2 linked regions of the Homo sapiens genome follow. The protein of the gene in region 2 interacts with the protein of the main gene of each other region in a pairwise test. Each region holds a gene or a part of one and is shown on either strand. Other genes may lie near its edges.

Region 1 (7,674 bases), on a different chromosome or scaffold from region 2:
ACCTTGATTTTACCCCGAGCTCTCCTTTTAGTTGATGGCTTGTGATTCAGGGTAAGTAGCAGTCTGTGGAAACCCAGGAAACTGGTTTGATTCCCAGCTGTGTCATTCAGTTGGCATGTGTCCTTCATCAATGTACATAATGTCTGAGATTCAGGTTTGTGCCAGTGAAGTCAGCATGATGTTTACTTTGAACTTTCATTAGGTGGGCTCAGGATAAAATACATGAAGTGCTTCTCGCCTGGTGAGTCCTTGATAAACGCTAGCACTTGTATTGTGGTCCTCCTGCCCCAATAATGATCACACCTTAGCACAATGTTGCCCTTCACAGTTTGCAAAGGCGGGGGCGCTTATATTCATGATCTCATCCTAAAAAAGTCTAATTTTTGTTAACAACAGCTCATATGTATAGAGTACTTGCTATTTTTACAAGTATTATGTAACAGTGGGTGCTCAACAAATGCCGAATGAGTGAGGGCATAGTTTCAAAAGTGGGCGTGGGTGGACAAGAAAACAGGTGACTTACTGGAAAACTCATTTTATGAGGCTGGAAGCTGCCTCTAAAGCAAGGGTAGTCCTGAGTCTCCCTGTTATATTGAAGGGAGTTAGTCCCCGGACTCTGAAACTGCCCTGGGTCACCCTAGTGGACAGACAGGGCCTGGCATGGGGGCTTCAAGCCTCTTCCAGCTGTGCCGTCGCTAAAAAACTAGAGGTAAAATTAAAGAGTTGGTGCCACCTAGAGGGCAAGAGAGTGCATCTCAGAAGAGGGCTGCGGAAATCCTTAGAATATGGAAGGTGGTGGTGGTTATAAAGAATCATAAAAATAATCTCTATTGGCCTGGCATGGTGGCTCATGCCTGTAATCCCAACACTTTGGGAGGCCGAGGCGGGAGGATCACTTGAGGTCAGGAGTTCAAGACCAGCCTGGCCAACATGGTGAAACCCCGTCTCCACCAAAAATACAAAAATTAGCTGAGTCTGGTGGCACACGCCTGTAGTCCCAGCTACTAGGGAGGCTGAGGCATGAGAATCGCTTGAACCTGGGAGGCAGAGGTTGCAGTGAGCTGAGATTGCACCACTGCACTCCAGCCTGGGTGACAGAGCTACACTCTGTCTAAAAAAAAAAAAAAAAAGAAGAAGGGGTCTAGACTTAAATAACTCATACAACTCTAAATAAAAAGATAAAATAATTTTAAAACGAGCAAGGGATATGAACAGCTATTTTTTCAAAGAAGATGTACAAATGACCAATAAGCACATGAAAAGATGCTCAACATCAGTAGCCATCAGGAAAGTGCAAATTGAAACCTCTTCACACCCACTAGCATGGCTATAATCAAAAAGACAGTAACAAGTGTTGACAAGGATATGAAGAAATTGAAACCCCCATACACTGCTGGTGGGAATGTAAAATGGTGCAGCTGCTTTGGAAAAGCAGTTAGACAGTTCTCAAAAAGTTAAACATAGTTACCATATGACCTAGTAATACCACTCTTAGGTATAGACCCAAGAGAAGTTAAAACATAGGGTTGCACAAAAGCTTGTACATTAATGTTCACAGCATTCACAGCTTTGTTCACAAGAGCTAGACTGGAAACAAGCCAAATGTCCATCAACTGATTAACAAACAAAATATAGTAAATCCATAAAATGGAATATTATCCAGCTACAAAAGGAATGAAGTACTGATTCATGCTATAACATGTCTTGAAAACATGCTAAATGAAAGAAGCAAAACACACAAAAGACTACATAGCATATGATTCTGTTTATATGAAATATCCAGAACATGCAAATCTATAGACAGAAAGTAGATTAGTGGTTGCCAGGGGCTGGGCAGATGGGCAAATGGAAAGTGACTGCTAATGAATAGCTTTCTTTTTGGGATGATGAAAATGTTCTCCAATTAGTGCGGACAGGTACATAAACTTTTTTTAATATACTAAAACCCACTGAATTGTACACCTATTTATATATGCATGTGTGTGTGTGTGTGTGTGTGTGTGTATATATATATATATGTATATACACTTTTTTTTTTTGAGACAGAGTCTCGCCCGTCACCCAGGCTGGAGTGCAATGGCACGATCTTGGCTCAGGGCAACCTCCACCTCCTGAGCAATTCTCCTGCCTCAGCCTCCCGAGTAGCTGGGATTACAGGCATCTGCCACCATGCCCAGTGAATTTTTATATTTTTAGTAGAGACGGGGTTTCACCATGTTGGTCAGGTTGGTCTCAAACTCTTGACCTCAGGTGATTCACCCTCCTCAGCCTCCCAAGTGCTGGAGGCGTGAGCCACCTCGCCTGGCCACCCCTATGTATTTTTTGAGACAGGGTCTTGCTCTGTTGCCCACGCTGGAAGTACAGAGGCATGATCATGGCTCACTGCAGCCTTGACCTCCCAGGCTTAAGCAATCCTCCCATCTCAGACTCCTGGAGTAGCTGAGACAAGATAAAAATCAGTTTAGTCCTCAGATGTACCATAACTTCCTTAATCATCCCTTTATTGATAGACATTTAGGGTGTTTACAATTATTTTGCTGCAAACTGCTGCAGCAGGCAACTTCATTTTCTTTTTTCTTTTTTTTGAGACAGTTTCGCTTTTGTTGCCCAGACTCCAGGCTGGAGTGCAACGGCGTGATCTCAGCTCACTGCAGCCTCCGCCTCCCAGGTTCAAACGATTCTCCTGCCTCAGCCTCCCGAGTAGCTGGGATTACAGGTATGCACCACCACGCCAGGCTAATTTTTTTTTTTTTTGTATTTAGTAGAGATGGGGTTTCACCATGTTGGTCAGGCTGCTCTCAAACTCCTGACCTCAGGTGATCCACCTGCCTCAGCCTTCCAAAGTGCTGGGATTACAGGCTTGAGACACTGCGCCCGGCCTCATTTTCTTCTTTTGAACAATTTCCTCCTGATTAGGGGTGGGGTTACCGATCAGACATTTTGAACATCTTTCTGACTCTTGACAATTTTGCATGTCACAAGATCTGTTGTCCTTGGCCCTAGCCTCTGCAAAGCCAGACCCTAAGGGCTGGCCCCTCTGACATCTCCCTTCCTCCAGCTTTGCGGTCACCCTTTTCACCTGGGGCCTCTGCCTCAGCCTCCTGCCTCTCCTCTCCACAGCCCACTCCTTCTCCTGCCCACAGGCCTGCGGGCTTCCCCTCCCCAGGCAAGCTGGGGCCGTGTCGCAGCGCTTGGCCATCACGACTTTGCCATTGCCAATGCAATCTGGCTCACTGGCATGCACTGTGCTTACCTTAGCCTCAGGGTGTCCTGCATAGGTCCCCAGGAAGATAAACCCTGGGTGATGTGTCATTTTCCCCTTTCCGTTCCTTCCCACGCCCTTCCCCCCACCTCCCCGCGTAGGCAGCGCATCTAGTTGGCACTCCATAAATATCCAAAGTATTTACAAAATAACGTAGAAGTTCTATGCTGTTTAGTTAGATCTCTTAAGGTTGATAATGTACAAGGCAATTTGCATCAGGAGCAGACGAGATAGGGCCCGGCAGATATAAATTAAAAATGCAATTGCACGCATTCATTCAACGAGAACTCACTGAGCAACTACTATGTGCCAACATTATCCACTGCAGTGAATAAAAGACAAACAAACAAGCAAATAACAAAAAAAAAAACAAAAGAGCAAGAAAGTGGCCGGGTGCAGTGGCTCACCGCTGTAATCCCAGCACTTTGGAAGGTCGAGAAAGGAGGATCGCTTGAGGCCACGAGTTCAAGACCAGACTGGGCAACATCATAGTGAGACCTCGTCTCTACAAAAATTAAAAAATTAGTCGGGGGTGGTGCGCCCAGCTCTACTCGGGAGGCTGAGGTGGGAGGATCGCTTGAGCCCAGGAACTGTAGGCTGCAGTGAGCCAGGATCGCACAACTGCACCACAGCCTGGGCAGCAGAACGAGAAATAAATAAACAAATAAAAGCCAGAAAGTAAAAATAAAGTGTTAGATGGCGATTCGAGCTGAGGAGGAAATCAGGCAGGGGAAAGAATCTGAAAGCGAGGAGTGAGTGGCTGGCAAGGCTCCTTCGGAAGGTGGCAATAACAGTCATAGACCGGTCACATCAATTGGGTGTTTACTGCGGGCCAGTGTGTGCCACCAACCTCACACCCGAAAGCCACAAAGACTCACGCCACAACGCAACGAGGCAGGGGCTCCTCCTCCTCCCTTGGTATACGGAAAGAAGCGTAGGGAGCAGAGTTGGGATGCTAGTCAGTACCCCCCTGCACCTAGCCCTTGCCCCTCCGTCTGGCTTTCCCCACTCCCGCTCCGGCGGAGCTAAGGTTAACATTAGACGAGGCTGTGGCTACCGGAAAGAGCGCAGGCGCAGAGCGCGGAATGCGCCTGCGCAGAGCGCTGGGCGACGTGGCCAGTCGGGGCCCGGAAGTGGTCCCTGTAGAACCACTGTGGCACCGCTACTCCGTGCCGCGCCCGTCGAGCATTGCGTTGCTGCATTGCGCCCCACCGACTCCACTATGTTGAAGAAATTCGACAAGAAGGATGAGGAGTCAGGTGAGGGGGCCAGGCCTGGGTCTGAGGGAGGCCGGACCCCCACCCGCCGAGCTTTCCTTCTGGTTCTCTGTCCTGACCCGGAGGCTGAGGCCCAGTGAGGGGCAGGGGCTTGTGCCAGGGTCCACAGCTAGTCAGTGGCAGGCCTCGGAGAGCCCGAGCATGCGCGGCTGTCTCACTCTTGTAAGCTCGGACTGCAATTTTCTGGGTGACCTTGGGCGCGACAAACACCCCCCCCCCCAGGCCTCAATTTACCCATCTGTCAAAGGAGGGGACCATGCCGAATGTTCTCTTGTTACTTTCTTCGTCCAACCTCTTGGGATTCGCTGGGGCTACGTTGGTGCTGGCCAAACTGGGGTGTAACCTGCGGAGCCAGCGTCCTGTGACTGGGAACTCTGACCCCATCATTCATTTATTCAGCAAAGTATATTGAGCAGTTACTGTATGCCAGGTACTGTACGGTGTCCTGGATACTGCAACAGAGCAAGTGGGACACTCAGTGCCTGAGCTAGGAATATTAGAATGGTTGCACCCACGATGGAGGAGGCAGACATCAACCAGATAATCACACGTGTAATTATTTGCAAATGTGTCATCTGCTATGAAGGAACTAGTTACAACGAGATGGTGGTCCCTGGCACATAGGGACTTAGTTAATTACAAGTTATATAAATGAACACAAGACATGGCACCATGAGAAGCACAGGACTGTACCAGGGCTGCTGGGAGATTGTGAGTGGTTTGGGGTAGAGTGGAGCCCACCTGCTTGCAGGAGACTAGTAGGATCCCTAGACAGATTGTAGAGGCTTGATTGCCATTCCTGAGGAGTTTGAACTTTACTAGATTTCCTAGGAAGGGACATCTTCCCTTTACCTATGTCTGGGAGAGTTTTGAAGTTCAGAGTCACAACCTACCTTCTCCATTGTCCTTGACCGTAGGTGGAGGCTCCAACCCATTCCAGCACCTTGAGAAGAGTGCGGTACTCCAGGAGGCAAGTGACATTTGCTCCCCTCTAGCTTCCATCATAAATATTCACCACCAATGCAACTGAAATACCAACACATTCAAAGTGTTGTTTTAAAGAGCAACACGGGAGAAAACTTGTGCCTGGAAGTTTTCTGGAAGACAGGAAAACTTTGTTTCTGGAGAGAGTTAGTTATGCTTACTTCTTTTTTTTTTTTTTTTTTTTTTTTTTTCTGAGACAGAGTCTTGCTCTGTCGCTCAGGCTGGAGTGCAGTGGCGTGATCTCGGCTCACTGCAAGCTCCGCCTTCCAGGTTCACGCCATTCTCCTGCCTCAGCCTCCCAAGTAGCTGGGACTACAGACGCCCGCCACCACACCCGGCTAATTTTTTGTATTTTTAGTAGAGACGGGGTTTCACCGCGTTAGCCAGGACGGTCTTGATCTCCTGACCTCGTGATCCACCCGCCTCGGCCTCCCAAAGTGCTGGGATTACAGGCTTGAGCCACCGCGCCTGGCCTCTCTATTTAAACATTTAAAAAATTTCTCTATTTAAAGTTAATTCCAAAGCTAAGGAAACTGGTTTAAAACTATCACCTAAGCTAGACTGTGGCCATTATGCAGGTAGAGATTTTGCATGACTTGTTTATTTTTATTATATATATTTTTTATATATATATATATATGTATTTTTTTTTAGAAGGCGTCTCACTCTGTTGCTCAGGCTGGAGTGCAGTGGCACGATCTCGGCTCAACTGCAACCTCTGCCTCCTGGGTTCAAGCAATTTTTCTGTCTCAGCCTCCCAAGTAGCCGGGACTACAGGCGCACGCCACTATGCCTGGCTGATTTTTATATTTTTAGTAGAGATGAGGTTTCACGATGTTGGCCAGGCAGGAGAATGGTGTGAATCCTGACCTCTTGATCCTCCCGCCTCGGCCTCCCAAAGTGCTGGGATTATAAGCGTGAGCCACCGCGCCCGGCCACTTCTCTTTTTTTTTTTGAGATGGAGACTTGCTGGTGTCAGCCTGGGGTGGAGTGCAATGGCATGATCTTGGCTTGCTGCAACCTCCGCCTCCTGGGTTCCAGCAATTCTCCTGCCTCGGCCTCCCGAGTAGCTGAGATTACAGGTGCCCACCACCATGCCTGGCTAAGTTTTGTATTTTTAGTACAGACGGGGTTTCACCATGTTGGCCAGGCTGGTCTCGAACTGACCTCAGGTGATCCACCCGCCTCGGCCTCCCAAAGTGCTAGGATTACAGGTGTGAGCTACTGCGTCCAGCCGCTTCTTTCTTTATTGTTGTCGTTCATTGTTTCTGTTTCCAGTTAGCAGATGGTTGCTAAGTATCTGCTAGTCAATAGGTTAGCACATCCCTAACTAATATTTACACGAGAGTCTAAGAATAATTAGTAGTTGATTAAAGAAAAACAAACCCTTTCCTTATGAAAATAAGCTTGTTGCATACCCAGAAAGCCCTGTTTAGACAAGTCAGTTTACCCTGAGACTTCTCAGACATTGAATATACTTGAAGGGAAATGAACTAGGCTAGAAGGTAACATCTTTGGTCATTTCTTCTTAGGCCCGTGTATTTAATGAAACTCCCATCAACCCTCGGAAATGTGCCCACATCCTCACCAAGATTCTTTATCTCATAAACCAGGTAACAGGGTGAAGCTTGCGGGTAGGGAGAATGGTGCTGGGGGATTGGAGGGGAGTGGACAAATCATGATCACTCTTAGGCTATTGGACAGCCTCTGTGTGGCTGTAGACAACAGCTCAGCTCTGGGTCCCCTCAGCATCCAAGTCTCATATGTTGCCCTTGAGCCTCTTTAGGGTCTGGGGATCTGGTGTGGGCTGATCCTGAAAGAACTGCTGTCTGACCCTCTGTCCCAAGCTGAGACTTCTTTCTTGATTAACACAGGGGGAGCACCTGGGGACCACGGAAGCGACCGAGGCCTTCTTTGCCATGACCAAGCTCTTTCAGTCCAATGATGTAAGTGCCTCAACCCAGCTTTCCTTGAGAGGTGGCAGCTGTAACAAGGTGGTGGGAGGGCCAAAGAGAGCTGGCCCCACCAGTCAGTGTGGGCTGCCTTTGTGGAGACAGGAGGTATCTTCTCCCAACTCTGGCCCTTGGTGAGCCCGGGCTGATAGGGCTTTTCCCACCTATCTCCCAGCCCACACTCCGTCGGATGTGCTAC
Region 2 (7,537 bases):
ATCACTGGGTACCATGAGAACACATAATGTAAGAGTTCTATTTGGGGAGATTAACAAAAGCTTTCCAAGGTTTGAGCCACGACATAAAAGATAAGAAAGAATTAACTTAAGAAAAAGTATTTTAACAAGAAGGTGAAAGACTTCTACAAGAAAACTACAAAACATTAATGAAAGAAATTGAAGAGGACACAAATAGACATCTCATGCTCATGGATCAGAAATAAATCCATGTACATGTAGCCAACTGATTTTTGACAAAGGTGCAAAGAACATACACTGGGAAAAGGATACCTTCCTCAATAAATGGTGTGAAAATTGGATATCCATAGCAGAAAAATAAAATTAGACTCCTATCTCTCATCATATGCAAAAATCAACTCAAAAACTATAAAAATACCAAAAAGGAAACAGAGAAGAAATGCTTCAGGATATAGGTCTATGCAAAGATTTTATGGTTAAGACCTCAAAAGCATAGGCAAGAAAAACAAAAAGACAAATGGGATTATATTTAACTAAACAACAACAACAACAAAAATACCTTCTGCAGAGCAAAAGAAACAAACAACCTAGTGAAGAGACAACCTATAGAATGGGAGAAAATATTTGCAAACTATTCAATCGTAAGGAATGAAAATTTTTTTTGCTGTTGAAGCAAAAAAAAAAAAGTCCCATTATAAAGAGGGCAAAGATCTTAATAGACATTTCTCAAAAGAATATATAAATAAATAGCCAACAGTTACATGAAAAAATGCTCAACATCACTAATTATTGAGGAAATGCAAATTGAAATCACAATGAGATATCATCTTCCTGTAGTTAGAATGGCTATTTTCAAAAAAATACAAAAAAAAAAAATAACAAATGCTGGCAAGGATGTGGAGAAAAGGGAACATATAATCTGTCAGTGGGAATGTAAATTAGTATAGCCATTATGGAAAATAGTAAAGAGGTTTCTCAAAAAACTAAAACTATAACTACTATACCACAATAGGCACTCCCACAAATGAATATTTATCAAAACAAAAGAAAGTCAGTATATCAAAAGGAATACCGTCACTTCCATGATTATTTCAGCACTATTTACAAAAGCCAAGACATGGGGGAAACCTAAGTGGCCAAAGGATGAACAGATAAAGAAAATGTAGTATATACACACACTGAAATACTATTCAGCCATAAAAAAGAACGAAATTCTATCATTTGCAGCAACATAGATGGAACTGGAGGTCATTAAGTGAAATAAACCAGGCACAAGGCCGGGCGCCGAGGCTCAGGCCTGTAATCCCAGCACTTTGGGAGGCCAAGGCGGGCGGATCACGAGGTCAGGAGATTGAGACCATCCTGGCCAACATGATGAAACCCCGTCTCTACTAAAAATTCAAAAAACAAATTAGCTGGGTGTGACAGTGCGTGCCTGTAATTCCAACTACTGGGGAGGCTGAGGCACGAGAATCGCTTGAACCCAGGAGGCAGAGGTTGCAGTGAGCCGAGATCGCTCCACTGCACTCCAGCCTGGGACAGAGTGAGACTTCATCTCAAAAATAAATAAATAAAATAAACCAGGTACAGAAAGACATCATACACGCAGCTAAAAAAGTGGATTTCATGGAGGGAGAGAGTAGAAAGATAGTTATCAGAGGCTGGGAAAGATGGGGGTGGGGGATGAAGGGAGGTTGCTTAATGGGTACAAACATACAATTAAAAGGATTAAGTTCTCATGTTTGATAGCACAGTTGGGTGACTACAGTTAACAACAATATATTGTGTATTTCAAAACAGCGAGTACCAAAATAGCTAGAAGATTTCAAATGTTCCCAACACAAAGAAATGGTAAATACTGAAGTTGATGAACACCCTAAATACTGATTTGATCATTACACACCGTATGCATGCATCAAAATATAACATAAAATCCCAGTTTATCAATTTAACATATTTTTAAAATAAAAAATACACCTATATACATGCATACCCACTCCTCTACTTTTCCAGACAGAAGGAAAATCTGTAAAAAGTAGGAAGAAAAACTTGTGTTCAAAGAACACAAAGAAGGCCACACTGTTCAAAGAAGGCCACACTGGCCGAAATGCAGAGCAACAAGGGGACTTGTACAGGAAAGGTTGCAATAAATGAAAACTCAGCAAGAACTGGATTATGAATGGACTGTATTTATTTTTGTTGACAAATTCAATTTAAAAGAATTCATTAACAGTTTTTAAGCAGGAGAGTAAAGTTCAGATTTGAGTTTATAAAAGAGTACTTATAACTACAATATGGAAAACAAATTGGAATAAAGCAGGGTAAATCCAGGAAGATCCATTAGAAAGCTATTGCAATCATCTGGTTGAGAGATAATGGAAACATCTCACAGGTAAAAATCCAATTATGATAGATTTGATAGAGGTTGAGGAAACATATAACACCACTTATTTTATAAGCAACAGTTAGAAATATGTATTCTTGGTTTTCTAGCACCACTGTGTGGATGAAACTCGATACTGCAGGAAAACTGCATGGTAACATAAGGGCCTGAAGCAGTAATATTAGACAACGATATAACAAATACATTTTCTTCATATCTGTGCAAAGACCTCTGGGCAATCCTGAACAAACTGGAGGCTTCTTAGACATCAGTCTTATTACAACACTTCATGATTGTTTCATTCCAACAAAATAATTTATATAAGTTATTAAGACACAGATGTGAGTCTAGGCCATATTACATGCTATTTTGTAAAATCTCTATTAACGCATAGAAAAAGGACACCTCTCTGGCCTCAAATGAGAAAGGAAAAGTTATCACATGATGATGACCATGTCAATTATCTTGATTATAAAAGTGGGAGGCAGAGCAACTGAAAGTAGAAAAGCAGTGTCCAGAATGTGACAGTTCTTAGCTACTGGCAGAGCTCTTTTGCAGAGTTCTCCCAAAAAAAGAAGTAGGGGGCAGCGAGGCTTCAATCTCTGCATAGATCTTTGTAAGGGTTGAAGAAGAAGAACTTTTTACAGAGAAGCCAGTGTAGTAAATATTTTATTATTTAATGATACCTTGCATTGAAAATAAAAGAGCTTTGCTGAAAAATCTGATAAGGATTAGTCTTCTAAAAAGAACTTAGGGCCTCAAAAGAAGAGTCTCCCTTAACATTTGCCCAAATACTTACCGAACCTCAAAACCTAGTTTTTCACACATGAAAACCACAAAAGCCTCATGGGACCTCAAAGGGCTATAGTTTTTCATTCATAAATTATTTATTGAATATCTACTATATGTACCAGACATTGTGGTTGGCATTGGGCACAAACAGTGAATAAAACAGACCTGTCTCCTGCACTAATAGTGCTAACGATGATATTCATTACTGTTTCTTGGCTTCTCAAAATACACTATTACTTGAACCACATGATATTGCCAATATTTAACTCTTTGACACCAATTAAATATGATGCAGTCTAATATTTACATAAGCAAAGTATAATAATCTTTAAAGAGGGGGAAGAGAGAGGCCAAGAACGTTAACTTACAAAGGTCACTTCATGGACCACTTAGCTTCTAGAATCAACCCAATAAGCCTTCTTTTCACCTAGTTACTGAGCTTGCTATTTATCTATGAAGGTGTAAAAAAGTAAAAGTACAAGTCCACAAATTCTAAAGCGAGACTTAAAGAACACGGGAGGACCAGAGTTAAGAGCACTGCTCCCATAAAATTATTTTATGCAATACTTCTCTGACCTCAACACATTCATGTGGGTATTTTCCCCATCTTTTCCTCCATAAGGGTAGAGATGAGTTTTATAGTCAACTCTACATAAATACAATGGTTACGTGGCTTTTCCCTCCCTTTACTCTAACTGTAGTGTAAATCTTCACCAGCTTTTCTTCCCTCTGCTCTGAAGAAAGAAAAAGGCCAGAGTGACCACAAAGATCATTAGGAAAAGCATGAGCTTTAGGGTCAGCTTTGCCACTGATGAATAACTTGGTTAAGTTAGCTCATCTTATTGCCCATTTCCTCATCTATAATAAAGGTTAGTAATACTAATTGTACCAAAACATTGACAAGCTTCAGTCGAAATATGCAATGTATTTACTATCAATGCATGGCACATAAGATTAAGCATTGATTTCCCTGTTCCTTTTCTCCCATTCAAGGCTAATTCCCACACAGGTGTTTATGATTCAATTTTCTCCTGCCAGAAGTTATCTCCTGTCCACTGGTGTTTCTCCTCCACTTACATATGCTGAAACTTCCCCACTCGCAAAATAAACAAATAAAAAAGGCTTCCTTTTCTCTGCCTGGCCGCTAAAGCAGAGCTCTCCCCTACCTTGTTCTTCTCAAACTTCTTTAAAAAGCTGTTTATACATCCATTTTCTCACTATACTCATTAGCCCTTTTCAATTGTTTCTAGCTCTATTATTCTACAGAAAATATTTTTTCACTTAAAAATATACATTGAATAACTTTTGTTTGCAGCCAACATGGAAGAATAGGAACCAGATTTATCTTTCCACCAGAAACATCCAATAAGATGAAACAAACCAGAGAAAGTTAAATGAAACAACAGTTTTCAAGACATCAGACATAAAACAACAAAGGACACTTATGAGATTAGCCCCACCACCAATCTAGTTTACTGCCTTGAGGAGTTTCCAGACCACAGCACAAAGAAGGGAAAGTGAGGTATAGTCAACTCTACATAAATACAACGGTTACATGGCTTTTCCCTCCCTTTAACTGTAGTGTAAATCTTCACCAGCTTTTCTTCCCCCTTCTCTGAAGAAAGAAAAAGGCCAGAGTACTTGTATGCAGAGTTGACTTCAACCTCCTTGAGTTGAAGAAACTAGGCTACTACTCTGTCATTAGACAGAGTAGCAGAGAAAAGAGAGATGCAGAGAGAAGCCCAGAGATCTGAGAGTCTGCCTCAAGTACTCAAGAGTACTAATGGCATGTGTTTGAGGAGATTACCCCAGGCTACAGAAAGAACCATCTGAAAGGGTTGAAGAGAAATCCTGGGCACTCACATAAGGCTAGGAACCATAACTGCTCCCAATAAGCAGAATGGAGAAAACCCTTAATTTGTGGGATACTGGGTAGTGTACACAGGAAAGTCTTGCCTCGGTAGTGGGAAATAACCCTAGACTGAGCACTGCTCCTGATCGGACTAACAAATCATAAAAGCAAGAACCAATGGAATTAATCTGTTTCCAAGTAACTCAACTATATCCCGGAAAAAAAACTCAAGAACATTATAAAAATACAAAAATAACCTGCACCTAACAAGGTAAAATTCACAATGTCTGGCATCCAATCAAAGATTACCACATATGCAAAGAGGAAAGAAAACAAAATCCATAATGAAGAGAATTACCAATCAATAGAAGCCAATATAAAACTGACATGGAAGCTACAATTCACAGAACAAGATGTAAAAACAATTATTGCTACATGTACTCCATGTATGTTCAACATAAGTAAGTAGAAGCAAGAAAGATGCAAAAGATTTAAATCAAACTTCTAGATGTGAATATTACAATGTCCAAGATGAAAAATACACCAGATGGGATTAACAAGAGACTAATATTACAAAAAAAAAAAGTAAACGGAACTAAAGGCATGAAAATGGAAACTATTGGCAATAAAACAGAAAAAAGTATGAAGAAAAAATGAAACGGGCATTCATGAGCTGAGACCAACTTCTGTGATCTAAAAATGTGTAACTGGAGTCTTCAAAGGAGAAAAGGAGGGGAAAAAGTTGGAAGAAATAATAGCCAAAATATTGCCATTGATCTTGATAAAAACTATATGTCCGCAGTTTATAGCCCAACAAACCCCAAACATAAGAATCATAAAGAAAACCACAGCTGGCCACAATATTATCAAACTGCTCAAAACCAATGTAAAAGAGAAAAATCTTAAAACAGAAGAAAAAAGGCATGTTATGTATAGAGCAACAAAGATAGGATAATGTGAGATTTCTCATCAGAAACAATATAAGCAAGACTGAGGCTATAACTTTAAAGCATTGAAAGAAAAAACTGTCAACCTAGAATGCAGAAGGAGCAGAGAGATGGTTACAGAAGGGTACAAGGAAACTTTGGGAATGATAGCTAAGTTTAGTATCTTGATTGTGGTGATGATTTCACGGGTGTATACATATATCACAACTTCTTAAGTTGTACATTTTAAATTTGTAGTTTATTGTCAATTATGTCTTCATAAAGCTGTTTAATTTGTGAGACAAATTTATGTCCTACTTACCAGGCATGCTCCAACCCTGGAGATAAAGCATTGAAAACGATGGACATGGGACCCTTCAATACAAAATCAATAATCTTAGCAAAGAAAACATACTGGATGCTACGAAGTATGATAAAGTCTATGAAGTACTGGTTACTATGGCAACGCATAATACAGATTCTATAGTGTAGATTCTGACTAGTCAAGAAAGGAATCCCTGAGGAAGTAACATGTAAGCCAACATGAAAGAATGAAGTATGAATTAGCTAGGTGAAATATAGCTGGGAAACATATAAAAACATATAAAAAGACTTGTACTAAATGAAGATTCTAGGAAAAGGATATTTATAAATGCCTAGGAAGGAAATTGCCGGATCAAAAGACAATTACAATTTGATTAAAAATAAGTTTTTTGTTTCGTTCTTTGGAATAGAAAAAGACAAAGTGACATTTACTGCTTATGTAGCAAAGGAAATTTTGGTACAACTTAATAACATTATTTAAGACAAGAGAATAAGCCTCATTGCATCAAGTTCTTGACACCAGAGACCACATCATCTTTACATCTTAAATGCAGTGTTTCAGGTAGCCAAGGTGCCCATCAAAGGTTTGTGGAACTAAAGTGAACTCCTTCAGTTAGAATAAAAGAAATCAAATTACCAGAAGCGCCTCAATTATGCTTCACTATCTCTAGAAATGATAGTTTTTAAACAAAATAATCTTTTTCATCATCCTCAAGTAATTCCTAATGAAAAACTCATCATGTGAACTATTGCAAAAGCCTCCTATCTGCTGTGTGCAGTCATCTCATCTTCCAAACTCAACCTCCACAGAGTCTGAGGTAAGCTTTTCAACTCCCGTATCTGTTCACGTCCCTTGTACTTAAAATGTGGTACACATACGCCATGGAATACTATGCAGCCATAAAAAGGAACACAATCATATCCTTCAAAGGGACATGGAAGGAGCTGGAAGCCACTGTCCTCAACAAACCAACGAAGGAACAGAACACAAAACACCACATGTTCTCACTTGTAAGTGGGAGCTGAATAATGAGATCACATGGACACAGGGAGGGGAACAACACACACTGTGGTCTGTCAGAGAATGGGGTAGGGGGAGGGAGAGCATTAGGAAAAATTGCTAATGCATGCTGGGCTTAATACCTAGGTGATGGGTTGACGGGTGCAGCAAACCACCATGGCACACGTTTACCTATGTACCAAACCTGCACATCCTGCACATGTACCCCGGAACTTCAAAGAAAAAAAAAAATCGGTCGGAGCAGTGGCTCAGGCCTGTTA

The links.
Region 1: the proteins of NUDCD1 (region 2) and COPG1 interact in binary tests that used the Homo sapiens proteins (3 or more experiments, as listed by UniProt).

What each region holds. Positions count from the first base shown.
Region 1 is NC_000003.12:129,245,226-129,252,899, forward strand, and holds the start of COPG1 (coatomer subunit gamma-1), read left to right. Parts: upstream 1-4,380; 5' UTR 4,381-4,484; coding exon 4,485-4,521; intron 4,522-5,456; coding exon 5,457-5,509; intron 5,510-7,055; coding exon 7,056-7,136; intron 7,137-7,397; coding exon 7,398-7,469; intron 7,470-7,650; coding exon 7,651-7,674. UniProt on the Homo sapiens protein: The coatomer is a cytosolic protein complex that binds to dilysine motifs and reversibly associates with Golgi non-clathrin-coated vesicles, which further mediate biosynthetic protein transport from the ER, via the Golgi up to the trans Golgi network.
Region 2 is NC_000008.11:109,323,551-109,331,087, forward strand, and holds part of NUDCD1 (nudC domain-containing protein 1), read right to left. Parts: intron 6,385-7,537; exon of another isoform or gene 6,286-6,384; coding exon of another isoform or gene 6,255-6,285; intron 1-6,254.